3 separate regions of the Homo sapiens genome follow, and regions 1 and 3 are each reported to be linked to region 2. Evidence: microRNA targets listed by miRTarBase, many of them from high-throughput screens and not tested one by one. Region 2 holds a microRNA gene; each other region holds the end of a gene's coding sequence.

Region 1 (4,000 bases), not on the chromosome of region 2:
GGAAGCAACTTAAAGTGAAGGTCAACCGCCTTTTTGAGGCCCAAGGTATTGGCTTAGCAGGGACTGGAGATAAGAAGGGGAGGGAATCATCAGCATGGACTTTGAAGGGCAGGGATGGGAAGTCCGACCCTCAGAGATGGGCAGTGTCCGGGGCAGCCTGTGAGTGGCCCTGGAGGTGTGCACAGTGGTTGGTTGTAGCTGCCCAGGGACAGAATGGACAGGGGGACTTCTACAGTCCTAGTCCTGTCATAGTTTCTTTTCCAGGTCCCAGGAACCGCTTGGGGTGATCTCACGTTATACATCGGGGCATGGCATGGGGATCAGATAGCTCTGACTGAGGAAACTCAGAAGGCTTCAGTGAGTGAGTGAGGTCAGAGCTGAAATTCTTGATAAATGCAAGCACTCTAGATTGGTCACAGGTCTTGGAAAAACCTGAGGTTCTTTGGGCAGCAGAGTTACGCGTTTGCAGGCTCTTGGTGACACAGGAGCAGTGGTGATGCCTCATCTGGTGCATTGCAGAATTGGAGGCCCATCCCTGCCAGACCTCCAGGCTGAGTTTGGCAGCATTAGTGCAGCGTCAGCCCCTTTCCTGGGCCTGGCTCCAGAGCCAGCAGGAGGCCCGACGTGCTGATGGATCATCTTCTCTCCTAGGCAAACCGGAGCTGAAGGGTTTTAACTTGAACCCCCTCAACCAGGATGAGCTTAAAGCTCTCAAGGTCATCTTGAAAGGATGAGACTCAAGAACCAAGATGGGGGACCAGCAACCCCCCAGGGTCATGGAGGACCCAGGACCCTCCAACCTTGACACCTGTAAGGACAGGATCTGCCCTGTAAGGGGCCAGCCGTCAGGAATCTGGCCATGAAAACCTCTTTGTAGTGCTTGGCTACTCTGTGATGGCAGGAGGGAACCTTCAGCCTGTCTGGCTGCTGGACCTGGACACCAGGGCTCGGTGGACACAAGATCTATTGACGGGCCTTGGTAGCCACCAGTGGGTGTGTGGGGCAGTGGCTGTGGGGGTGTAAGAATGACTGCAACAGGCACTTCCCAACAATGGCCTGCTGTTCACATGGACCCTGAGCAAGGAAGGAGGGAGGGAGGGGCAGAGTGGAGTGTCATTCCAGCATTCCTCTCAGAAGGGAGAGAGGTTTTCAGGCTGGTGCCATGCGATTGGAATAAAGCAGGAGGCTCATGGGTGGTTGCTGAATGAAGAACAGAATCTTGGTGCTTTGTGGCTCACCACAGCCATCTGTGGGGCAGGCACACACACCTCCCGCCAGCTCCAATTTTGCACTTTTTCCCTGCTTGATTCCAAGAGTAGGTGCTGCCTAGCAGCCCTTCGTGGCCACTCTTTACTCAGGAGGGCCTTGCAGAGTCCTGCACCAGGCCTGGGTGAGTGGATGCGCCTCTTACCATATGACACGTGTCAAGATGCCCTTCCGCCCCCTCTGAAAGTGGGGCCCGGCCAGCACTGCTCGTTACTGTCTGCCTTCAGTGGTCTGAGGTCCCAGTATGAACTGCCGTGAAGTCAAAACTCTTATGTGTTCATTAAGGGCTCAATAAATGTTAGCTGAATGAATGAATAGCAGCAACTAGTCTTTATTTGCCTCATCTAGTCCTTCAGTAAGGGCACGCCACTCCATTTAGAATACAACCTATGAACATGGTTCTTGCCTTGAAATAAACCTGTGATTTGACAGGCGGGTGATAACAAATGGCAGCATGGCAGGGGCACACCTCTCCTGGTCCCCCCGCTCCTTGGCTCTGGCTCATAGTTACATAGAAACACAGGCTGTCATGGCCAGTTCTTACGTGTTTTCAAGAGAAGCTAGACATATGGGTTGTGAAGTTGAATCTCCTTTTAAATATTTTTGACTAATGCAGAAACTTTTAAAACATGAGTGTGGGTCACAGGTGTTAGCTCCAGATAGTGCAATACCATACAACTATAATCAAGAATAAGGAACAAGCTCCAAGATACATCAAGTGAGGAAAGCAAGGGGAAGGCTGGTGTCTTATAAGCTAATAATTTTTGTGCAAGCACAGTGTGATTCCCTCAGAACAGCACCTGCAGGGTTGGGGCGCACAGGTGGGAGGGAAGGAGATGTCACCCTATACCCTTTTGTAAACTTTGGATTTTAAACCGTATGAATATATTGCTTATTTTAAAATGTAAATAAAGTAGGGAGTTGCAGAATTCACCTTGCTAGATGTTGTCCAGTGTGACTGCCTGATTCACAATTTCATCACTGGAAAATTGCCCCTTCCTCCCTGGCAGGGTGGGTGCTGGGCCAAAAAAAGCTAATCGCATTCCTTCTGGAAATAGGGAACCTGGAGTCCATGCCTGGACCTGTCTGGGTTGGTGTGCCTCAGGTACAGGGATGAGTGGGAGAAGTCCTCATGCTCTGAAGGCAGAAGGTCTAGAGTAGCCTGGCTTCTGGCTTTCCTAAAGTCGGCTGGTTCACTTCTTGGATTTGCCAGTATTTTCCTTCCAAAAGTCTTCCCTTCGGGCTTGACCTAGGCAGGCAGATTCAACCATTTGCAGCCAGAGAAACTACTCTGAAGCAGGCGGAGTGGTAGAGGGAGTAAGTCCCCCCTGGAACAGTTACCCCAACAGCCCCGAGTCTTGTTGCAACCCCTCTTAAACCAAGAGGAAGCTTAGCAATGTAAGATGTGAAAAGGCAGATTTTTACTCACACTCAACTCCCGAAGCTGTCCTGCCCATGAGCCCAGGGTTTTCCGGTTTCTGGCTCAGCTCCCAATCTCAAACACAAGGCCTAGAGAAGCACTTAAGTCACCCATCTGACTTAGATAAATGCACCTTTGCAGAGACCCTCACTAAGCTCTGCCTCCCTGGTCTGTCTTGTCCATCTGAGAAATGGGGATGCCCTGTCCCACTGGTTTTCAGATGATGGTCAGGGAGCCCCATGGGCTCCCCTGACATGCAAGGAGAAGAGGATGTGTTTAGGGCTCAGTACTTCCCCAGGCCCCCAATAAACACACAATCTAATAACTGCTTGCTGTGTAAGCACAGCTTAAAGACGAGTTCCTTAGCCTCCAAACTCTTGCTCCTGAAGGACCTTTTCAGCACTGACTTGGGAGGTATCCAAGTGTCAAAGCCAGGAGGACTTGGCTGCAGCCAACAGTATCCCCGGAACCAGGCCTGGTGCCCAGTGACTCCAAGTAGGGCCTGTGCTCATTTATTAGATATGATCTCCTGGGGGTAGCAGAACTTGCTGTATTTGTTCTCTTTGGGCCTAACTGCCAAGTCAGTTTGTCAAGGTTAAACCTCCCCCAGTCCCAGTGATTGGCTGTCTCCTGGTGCAAAGATGCCTGGGGATGGGCTGGAGGTATCCAAGGGGCCCAATTCAGGTAGTAAGCTGCAGCTGCTAAGCCAGCAAAGCTGGTGCCAGGCTGGAGGTGGGGAGGCGAATGCTGTGAGGTGCTGTGCTGGGATCTGGGAGTGGGGGGGAGGCCTGGGTGGCACCTGCTAAGGCTGATTTCCTCCTGGCAGCTGGGGATCAACTGGAAGCTTTCTTCTGAACTTGAAGGGAGCAGAAGAGCTGCCTCAGTTGTTTCTTCCGATCGTTGACGCAGCCTGGAAAGGAAGTGGGGTGTTGGCTGGGATGACCTATGCTTGGGAGGAGTGGAGGGGCCTGTGCCCCAACTCCCTGCTGGGAAGAGGGGACAGCGGGAGTCAGACAACCACACACAGCCTGTGGTTTATATCCTGGCTCCATTCCTAAACTGCCATGGCCCTCAAGCAGGTCAGTTACCCTTTTCAGCATCGGTCTTCTCATCTGTAAACCAGGATACTACTGCCCACCTTATGGAGTGAACATGAGGACTGGGGGCTTACCTCAAGCCAGGAACTGCTCCAGATGCTGAATGTGGATGGATTTGTTTGGCCCTCGCAGGAATGATGTGTAGAAGGGAAAACAGGCTCAGAGAGGTTAAATCATTTGAACCCAGACTACCTGGTGCCAGAGCCACACTCTTAAC
Region 2 (4,340 bases):
ATGTATGTTTGCATAAGTTTTTAGATGTAACAGAGGATATTTTGTTCTTGATCCAATATTTTAGGGCTGCATATTAGCTTATCTCAATTTTCGAGCTAGAAAATCACATAAAGGTGAAATCTATTTCTTCTTTTGCAGCGGCTCTAATTAGAGGAAATCGTAAAAACTGTGCTCAATTTTCTGGCTCCCTCGACTGGTTGATCAGCAGATTGGAAAGACTGGAAGCTTCTTCAGGTATGTTTTCTAGTTTTTTCCTTGTTGTGATAGATCACTCCTATTTTTCTTTGCTTCGTATCCTTTAAGACAAAAAAAAAAAAAAAAAAAAACAACTTTGAGTGAGGTGTGGTGGTGTGTACTGAGTCCCAGATACTCAGGAGGCTGAGGTAGGAGGATCACTTGAGGCTAGGAGTTTGAGGCTGTAGTGCACTATGGTCACTGCACTCCAACATGGACAATATATTGAGACCCCATCTTTAAAAAACAAAAAGAAAAAACTCTGATGTTTGGTGTAATATAAGTGTTTTCCTTTTAAATTATGTTAAGTATTTTTATTTCTTGAAAAATCATTAGTATTTTCATTAGTCATTTCTGAATAGTCATCTAACAATATCATGTCCATTTATATCTTAAAAAACCTATTTATAAAGCCCTGAAAACCACTAAAGAGCCAGAATTCTCATTCTTTTTCAAATTGATTACTGCTAGTCTATTCTATAAATAAGAAGATCAGTTTGGAGTTCTCATTGTTTTCCTTGTATTCAAAAGATTATTTGGATAGATTGGGGAGACAGTTCATTTTCCAAATCCTAGAGTGTAATATTTTATTTAAAGGAAATTTAGTAAATACTAACAAATGGTCTGTATAATAGTAAAATATTTATAGGCAGTCAACCCGATACACACATCTCTAATAAGATGTTAGTTTTATTTCAGTATTGTGGAGACTTATCAATGACTGTGAAGACTTATCAGTGATTTTGGACTTACCAGTATTAAATCAGTTATTTGAACTTGTTAGAGCTCTCTAGCTCACACATAATTGACCTCTCTAGTGCCATAGATTGCCTCAGTGACACCCAAATGAATCTACTGCTCTTCCATCTGTTTGCACAGTATTTCATTATTTGCCTTTCTTTATCACTAATGCCCTCTTATGTTACTTATTTTTCCTCTCAGTTTCCTTCATTAGTAATGAACTTCTTGAAGATAGGGGCATGGTTTCATTCATCTTTGTTCTTTCCGGATCTACCATACCATCTGGCACCTATAGGTGTCTAGTATTGTTTGTTGAATGAATGGATGGATGAACATTAAAATTCACTCAAAAAATACCACTGTCCATACAAAATAGTTCTGAGACTTTTGCATGATAAAGACCCACTCAGGGACAGGTTTGTTGGAATTGAATAGAGACAGAGAAACAACCATGATCAGAGAGAGTAATTTTAAGTCACAGAGAAAAATTTGTAGAGTTTAGATAGTGGAGGACAAAAATGTGTAGAGTTTAGATAGTGGAGGACAAAAATTTGAGTCATAGTGAGTTCTTGGGCACTGCTAGATCGTTGGGCAGCAGAAGTAAGATAGAAATGGAGATTGTTGTAATAAAAACAAAAATAATTATGAGATGAGGGTGTTAAGAGTATCATAACATGAATGTAGTGACTGTGCATTAATTGCAGAATATATTAAGGAAAAACCTGTAACTTCTAGCATAAAGAAGTGACCAAATAAGTGGTACTGAAGCAAAGTCATTGTCTGGGGTAAATACCTGAGATTCATTGTCTTGCACCAAGAAAATTAAGGACATGGACACACACACAAGGAGTGAGTTTAGGAGCAGAGGTTTAATAAGCAAAAGAAAGAGAAAGGAGAACAGCTGTCTCAAAGAGAGAGAGGGAGAGATAGGGAAAGAGAGAGGAAGAGATAGGGGCAGAGAGGAGAGACAGAGAGAGAGGAAAGAGAGAGAGAGAGAGACAGAGAGAGATCACGATTGAGAAATCTGGCCTGCACCAGAGTGCACCAGATTTTATAGGCAGGCTTGAGGAAGCAGTGTCTGATTTGCATAGGGCCCAAAGATTGGTTGGACTCGGTATGACATTTGCATAGGAAGGCTGGCCAGGAAGGCTGGCTGCTCCACCCTAATCTTATGCAAACAGGCTTTCCACTTGGCAGGTGCCATGTTGCCTGCTCCTTACTGTACACGTGGCTGGCAAGGAGACGGGAACATGGAGCCGCCATTTTGAACATGCCTAGTCCCAGGTGGTCTTTTCCTATTGGCACAACTGCTGGCATTCACCCGTGGAAGCTTCCAACTTGCTTCTCTATGTCTGCAGCTCGATTTTGCAGGCTGCTCTTTGTTAGAAAAGAACATGATTTTGGGACTGCTCTTCATTAAAAGGTAAACCTTACCAAGGACTCCTGTACCCTCACTATCTGCCTAAATAATTTCTCCTTAACTCCTGTATCAGTAACAAGATGGTGGCATAGATTACAAAAATGGATAAATGTTTAGGGCCAAGTGTCCAGAATCACTGGAAAGCTACAGAAGACATTTAAAAAATGCTCATGTCTTCTGCTGGACCCAGTGGTATCTGTAAAGAGATAGGTGCAGGGCAGCCTCAGAGCAGAGTGTTAACACTGGCTGAATCAACTGCACAGCGAAATGCTTAACTGGAAAACAGAGAGAGAAAAGACATGAACAGAGCCAAGCATCCTTTAAGGTCAACCAAGTACAGTCCAGTGTTTTCAGAGTCTTCAGTTTTGTCAGTTACAGGCACAGTTTCATCAGATACAAATTATTATTTGCTGTTGTCTTTTTCCAGTCAATCTGTTGATTGCAGGCATTCCTAATGAAAAGGGAAGCCCTGTGCTCAGAGATAACATAATGAAAGTCAAGGGAAAGAAGGACCCTTAGAGTATATTTAATCTAACATTCTTACTTTAGAGGAAAAGAAACTGAGGCAAAGAACATTTAAATGACTGACTCAAAATCTTAGAAAAATTATTGTTACTGCCAAGGTTAAAACTCAGCTCCCTAGCATCAGACTTGCAATATGACCATGATACTTTGTAGCTCTTGTTTTTTAAGTATCTAAAATATATTTTGCTGAACAATTTTTTCTACTGTAGTTAACATTTATGCTTTTAATGAACTGTTTTTTCTCCAGAGGAAGTGGTGTTGCTTAGTTTTTAGAGGCAGTAACAATGATGAGATGCACATGTGTATGTATATAACTTATTTCAATTGTGCTTTGCTCTTTACAAAGTGCATACATATGCATCATTTTTTTCCTCTCTGTAATAAGTCTGACGTTGCTGAACACACACTCTCCTCATCTCGTTAGTGCCCTAGCTGCAGATTCAAACTGAAGAATTCTTGAGTAGAAAAGGGATCAAAAGTAGGGTTAATTGTCTTCCTGGGATCTAGACCATTCTAGTCTTTACTGCCTTGGCAGGTCCCCAGTGCCTTGGTTGTTTTGGTTGATGGCTGGCCTGAAACACCTCGTTTACCATTGCCAGATGCAGAACAATGCCTAGGATTGCCTTAAAAAACAACATTGGAAATGAAGTGATGAATCATAGGTGAATAGTTAAATTATATTACAACAACATTTTCAGCTATATTATAGGTATTGCAAAGAATTGTTTAGATGTATATCCTGAAATAGATTTAGAATATATTTTTAAGTGAAAATTCATTTTTAGAATGTGTGATAGGATATATTTTTGTAAAAAAAAAAAAGTGAAGATGAAAGTAGAAAGAAATAAATGAAAAGAGGAAAGAAGGGGCAAAAACCCTGTGTAATATGTATATATGTCTTTGCACGCATAGGCTGTAGAAATATGTACACCGCTGTTTACTTTGGTGACCAAGGAGTTCAAATTAGAGGAAAGAAAAAGAGTAAAACACTGGGTTCTCTAGGACAGGGAATTGCTTGTCAAAACTTGTGATAAATAGCAAATGGGAAGTCATTAGACCCAAAGGATAGAGAAGAAAGGGTCTAATGAACAGTAACACCAATTATTTTTTCCACCTTGCTTTTACTTTTTTTTTTAAATTGCTTTTTCCATTATTCTTTACATTCTACCACTAATTTAGTGGCAGGGACAATAGTGTTATCTACCCGATAGGGCTGTTAGGGGGATTAAATGATTAATATTTGTAAAGTACATAAAAAAGTATTTGGTGGGCGGGTGTGGTGGCTCACACCTGTAATCCCAGCACTTTGGGAGGCTGAGGTGGGCAAATCAGCTGAGGTCAGGAGTTTGAAACCAGCCTGGCCAACATGATGAAACCCTGTCTCTACTAAAAATACAAAAATTAGCAAGGCATGGTGGCA
Region 3 (4,340 bases), not on the chromosome of region 2:
AGACGGGGTTTCACCATGTTGGCCAGGCTGGTCTCGAACTCCTGACCTTAGGTGATCCACCCACCTCGGCCTCCCAAAATGCTGGAATTACAGGTGTGAGCCACTGTGCCTGGCTTTGTTGGTTTTAACAGTTCTTTCCCATGCAGGCTGCAGCTGAACAGCCAAGTCCCCTCCTTGGGTCACATATTTTTCTGAAAATGTTATAAAAAAATTGAGTCCACTGGCCTGGGCTAATTACCTAGCAGAACATCCCCATGGTTTGGTGATTCTGAATATCGCTGCCAAACAAGCACTTGTAGAGGCTCAAACAAGGCCATAAAACATGGCAATGGGGGCGCGCTCCCACTCTGGGAAATGAAAATCTGACGATACTTTGAATTACAGTGGATCAAGATTAATTCCAGGCTCTACTTAGAGGAAGCTTTCAGGCCCAGTGGTTTAGACATAAAAGCAGTTTGCCCTAATGCGGCAGGTGAAAGCTGTGACAACTCTATTGCTTGGTGCCAATTACATTTATGGACTTGTACCCAGGAGTGCTAGGAAATTGTCACCATTAGTGCTGACGTACTGCCAGTTGTTGGCTCTGTCTAGTGGGGTTCTGATTTGAAGACTCATTATTAATATTCCCTGTAGTGATCTGCAATGCTGCTCCATTATGGCAAGTCTGTCAGGAACGGAGTTTGTGTAGGAATTTTAGAAAACAGCAATAGGTTGAGGGCTATGTGGTAGGCCCCAGAGCTTCTCAAACTACTGTGCACACAAATCACCCAGGGTCTCGTTGAGATGCAGATTCGGAATCACGTCCTGAGCTGAGGCTTGATACTTTTCTTCTTTTTTGGAGACAGGATCTCTCTCTGTTGCCCAGGCCAGAGTGCAATGGTGCAGTCATGGCTCACTGCAGCCTCAAATTCTTAGGCTCAAGCAATCCTCTCACCTTGCCTTCTGAGTAGTTGGGACTACAGGCGTTAGCCACTACGCCTGGCTTTTTTTTTTTTTTGAGATGGAGTTTTGCTCTTGTTGCCCAGGCTAGAGTGCAATGGCATGGTCTTGGCTCACTGCAACCTCTGCCTCCTGGGTTCAAGTGATTCTCCTGCCTCAGCCTCCCAAGTAGCTGGGATTACAGGCATGAGCCACCACACCCGGCTAATTTTGTATTTTTAGTAGAGGCAGGGTTTCACCATGTTGGCCAGGCTGGTCTTGAACTCCTGACTTTGGGTGATCCACCCGCCTCGGCCTCCCAAAGTGCTGGGATGACAGGCATGAGCCACCATGCCCGGCACCTCGCCTGGCTTTTTAATTTTTGAGATGTCTGGCTCTGTTGCCCAGGCTGGAGGGCAGTGTTGCGATCTTGGCTCACTGCAACCTTCGCCTCCCAGGTTCAAGCGATTCTCCTGCCTCGGCCTCCCAAGTAGCTGGGACTGCAGGCGCAAACCACCATGCCAGACTAATTGGCTGTTTAATTTTTAATAGAGATGGGGTCTTGCTTTGTTGTCCAGGCTGGTTGAACTCCTGGCCTTAATTGATCCTCCTGCCTTGGCCTCCCAAAGTATCGGGATTGCAGGAGTGAGCCAACATGCTCAGCCTGATGTTGCATTTCTAACCAGCATCCACGTGATGCCACAGATGCTGCTGCTGCTCCAGCGGGAATGTGGGAAAAGCACAGGCTCAGGAGTCAGATGGACATGGGTGGACATGGGCTCTAAACCTGACTCTGCCCTTGGTTGCTGTGTGATGTTGGGCAAGTTGCTGAACCTCTCTGAATTTTGGATTTCTCATGTGCAAAATAGGGATCACTTCTGCCTTTTAGGTTCTTTGAAGATTTATAATAACGTACATGCATAGGTTTTCTTCTTGCTCCCAGAGGGGCAGGGTGAGGTCACTCTCCTGCATGCTCTCACTACAGGTTCAGCTGAGACCGTTTTTCTTCTCTAAAGTACTTGGCTTTCTTCTTCCAAGTCAGGATTTCTCCGCCTCGGCGCTACTCACATTTTGGGCTGGATCATTTTGTGTTGTGGGGGATGCTCCGTGATTACCGCATTATAGAACGTTCAGCAGCATCTCTGGCCTCACCCACTGGATACTGGTGGCACCCGTCTCCCCTACTTGTGACCACCGAAAATGTCTCCAGGCACTGCCAAATGTTCCTGGAGGCAAAATCACTCACAAATAGGAAATAATGACCTAATTAGTAACTTACATTAGCAATTCATTCAACAATATGTGTTGAGCATCTACTGTTTGCCAGACCATACAGCAGGGATGTAGTGATATTTAAGACAAACAAGGTCCCTGACCTCATGGAGACTTTTTCCTTTTTGGACCTCAGTCTTCTCCGCTGTAATGTGGGTATCACAAGGCTGCGGACCTCCTAAATTTGTTGGGAAGATGAAGTTAGACTTGCAAGTGCCTGGCCCCTGGCATGAGGGATTAGCCAATGCCAGGGGTATGATGGGCCTAGGGATGGAACCTGGGAGCTTGGGGAGAAGCGAGTGTGGGCAGGGACAGTGCATGGAGAAGCCAGGAAACCTGAGCTGCAAGGGAGGCGGAAAGGGGCCATGAAAGGCCCTGGTGCAAAGTGTGCGGCAGCAGCAAGGCAGGGGAAAGGGGCTGCAGGGAGGGCCAAGGGTAGCAGGAAGATGGGACCAAAACTGGAGAGAAGGAGAGAGACAGTGGGACATAGAGGATGACAGGAAGGGGTGGAGATGGGAGGAGAGAGGCACAGATGGAGAAGATAAAAAACCAGACAGACAGACATGTACACACGTGATAAGACAGAGAGACCAAGGGGCGGAGGGAAAATGAGTCCAGGCGGAAGGGAACACCTCTGAGGAAGATCACTGCACAAACCCTGGTCAGCTGCACATGACCCCAAAGAGTGGCTCTTAGGTTTATTCCAAACGTACCTGATTTGGGTGATAAAGAGTTAAAATTAAATACAAAGGCCAATGCCAGTCCATTCCTGGCGCCAGCTCCTGCCTCTTCCTTCTCATGGGGCCCTCACCAGAGTGATGGGGTGGAGCATACCCAACCCTGGGAGGAAATGAGGCTTTTGTGCCGAGCGGCAATATGATGGCAATACTGGCAGTGGTAGTCAACCCATCTGTAAACAGCTGACAGAGGGCAGTACAAGAATCCACCTCACAGCCAGGGCCGCAACCGCAAGTAAAGCACACAGCTGAAATGACTGACGTGGGTGGAACTGAGCTGAGAAGGAACGTGGCTCGGCTTGACCCTGGAGCACACATCACAACCATGAGAAACAGGCAACTAAAGTGACCTCCAGCCCACAGCAACAACCTTCTCTGGCTACAACTGGGAGGCAGGGACAGACCCCAGAAAACCATCTTGGGTCATCTAAGGTACGTGTAACCATATTTTTAAAATGACAAAATCTCAAGCATGTTGCTTTGGTGAGCTTCTGATTTTACTAGAAATACACTCTAAGAACAGTCGAGACGCCGCGCCTTGTGGAGGCGATGGGTCATGTTACTGGTTCTGCGATGATCTTCCAGAGCTCCTGCAGCAAACAGAGAAAAGAACAGGTTTCTGAAGTGCACATACAAGAGCATCACAATTTCATTAAGGAAAGTGATTCACCAAGGAGAGTAGTTAGACAACACGTCAGCCACGGAGCAGGCGAGCTGGGGCAGGAGCGGACGGGCGGCTTCCTCCTTTCTTTGTTGCTCTGGGCTGTTCTATTTTACTGTGGCAGAGAGGCTGGATGGATGAAGTCCCAGCATTAACGGAAGGTGCATCAGAGGATGTCAAACAATCAGAAGAGACCAGAATAGCAGTGAGTTGCCGTATCTCTCCATTTTGGGGGAGATCTTTATAAACAATTTTATTTTAGAGACAGGATCTCATTCTGTTGCCCAGTCTGGAGTGCAGTGGCACCATCACAGCTTGCTGCAGCCTTGAACTTCTGGGCTCAAGCAATCCTCCCACCTCAGCTTCCAGAGTAGCTGGGACCACAGGTGTGCACCACCATGCATGGCTAATTTTTTTTCTTGATTTTTGTCGAGATAGGGTCTGTGATGCCCAGGCTGGTCTCGAACTCCTAGCTTCAAGCAACCCTCCGACCATGGCCTCCCAGAGTGCTGGGATTACAGGTGGGAGCCACCGTACCTGGCCTTTTTGGGACGTCTTAGGCATCATGTATTGGGGCTGCTGACTTGTAAGAAATGTGTGTTCTTGGTCATGTGACGCTACTCTTAATGCTGCCCAGAAGTGGCAGAGCAATAAATACAAGATCCTCCTCGCACACAAAACCACACGAATTCCATGCTGCCCTCCCTCAGGACGCGAGACAGAGTGCAAGGGCGGCAGCTCCTCGTGACTCC

What was found. The annotated mature microRNA hsa-miR-4428 reads CAAGGAGACGGGAACAUGGAGC and lies in region 2 at 2,211-2,232, shown strand. An mRNA with a match to its seed (bases 2 to 7 or 8) in the 3' UTR can be bound and repressed. Matches are read on the target gene's strand: a 7mer-m8 pairs with bases 2 to 8, a 7mer-A1 pairs with bases 2 to 7 and ends in A, and an 8mer does both.
Region 1: miRTarBase lists TTLL9 as a target of hsa-miR-4428. Seed matches in the 3' UTR shown: 7mer-m8 at 2,945-2,951 and 7mer-m8 at 2,097-2,103.
Region 3: the mRNA of METTL22 is a reported target of hsa-miR-4428. Seed matches in the 3' UTR shown: 7mer-m8 at 2,657-2,663.

Annotation. Positions count from the first base shown.
Region 1 is chr20:31,942,541-31,946,540 of GRCh38, reverse strand. TTLL9 (tubulin tyrosine ligase like 9) reads right to left here. Exons shown (of 15, transcript NM_001008409.5): 15 at 1,541-3,596. The coding sequence ends at 3,520. PDRG1 (p53 and DNA damage regulated 1) reads left to right here. Exons shown (of 5, transcript NM_030815.3): 4 at 1-45; 5 at 652-2,204. The coding sequence ends at 734. Among named protein-coding and RNA genes, the nearest start is that of PDRG1, 7.5 kb to the left of the region's middle.
Region 2 is chr1:237,468,954-237,473,293 of GRCh38, forward strand. It overlaps MIR4428 (microRNA 4428), which reads left to right and starts at 2,166; the gene lies at 2,166-2,238. RYR2 (ryanodine receptor 2) reads left to right here. Exons shown (of 105, transcript NM_001035.3): 17 at 139-234.
Region 3 is chr16:8,645,285-8,649,624 of GRCh38, reverse strand. METTL22 (methyltransferase 22, Kin17 lysine) reads right to left here. Exons shown (of 11, transcript NM_024109.4): 11 at 1-3,517. The coding sequence ends at 3,482. Among named protein-coding and RNA genes, the nearest start is that of METTL22, 26 kb to the right of the region's middle.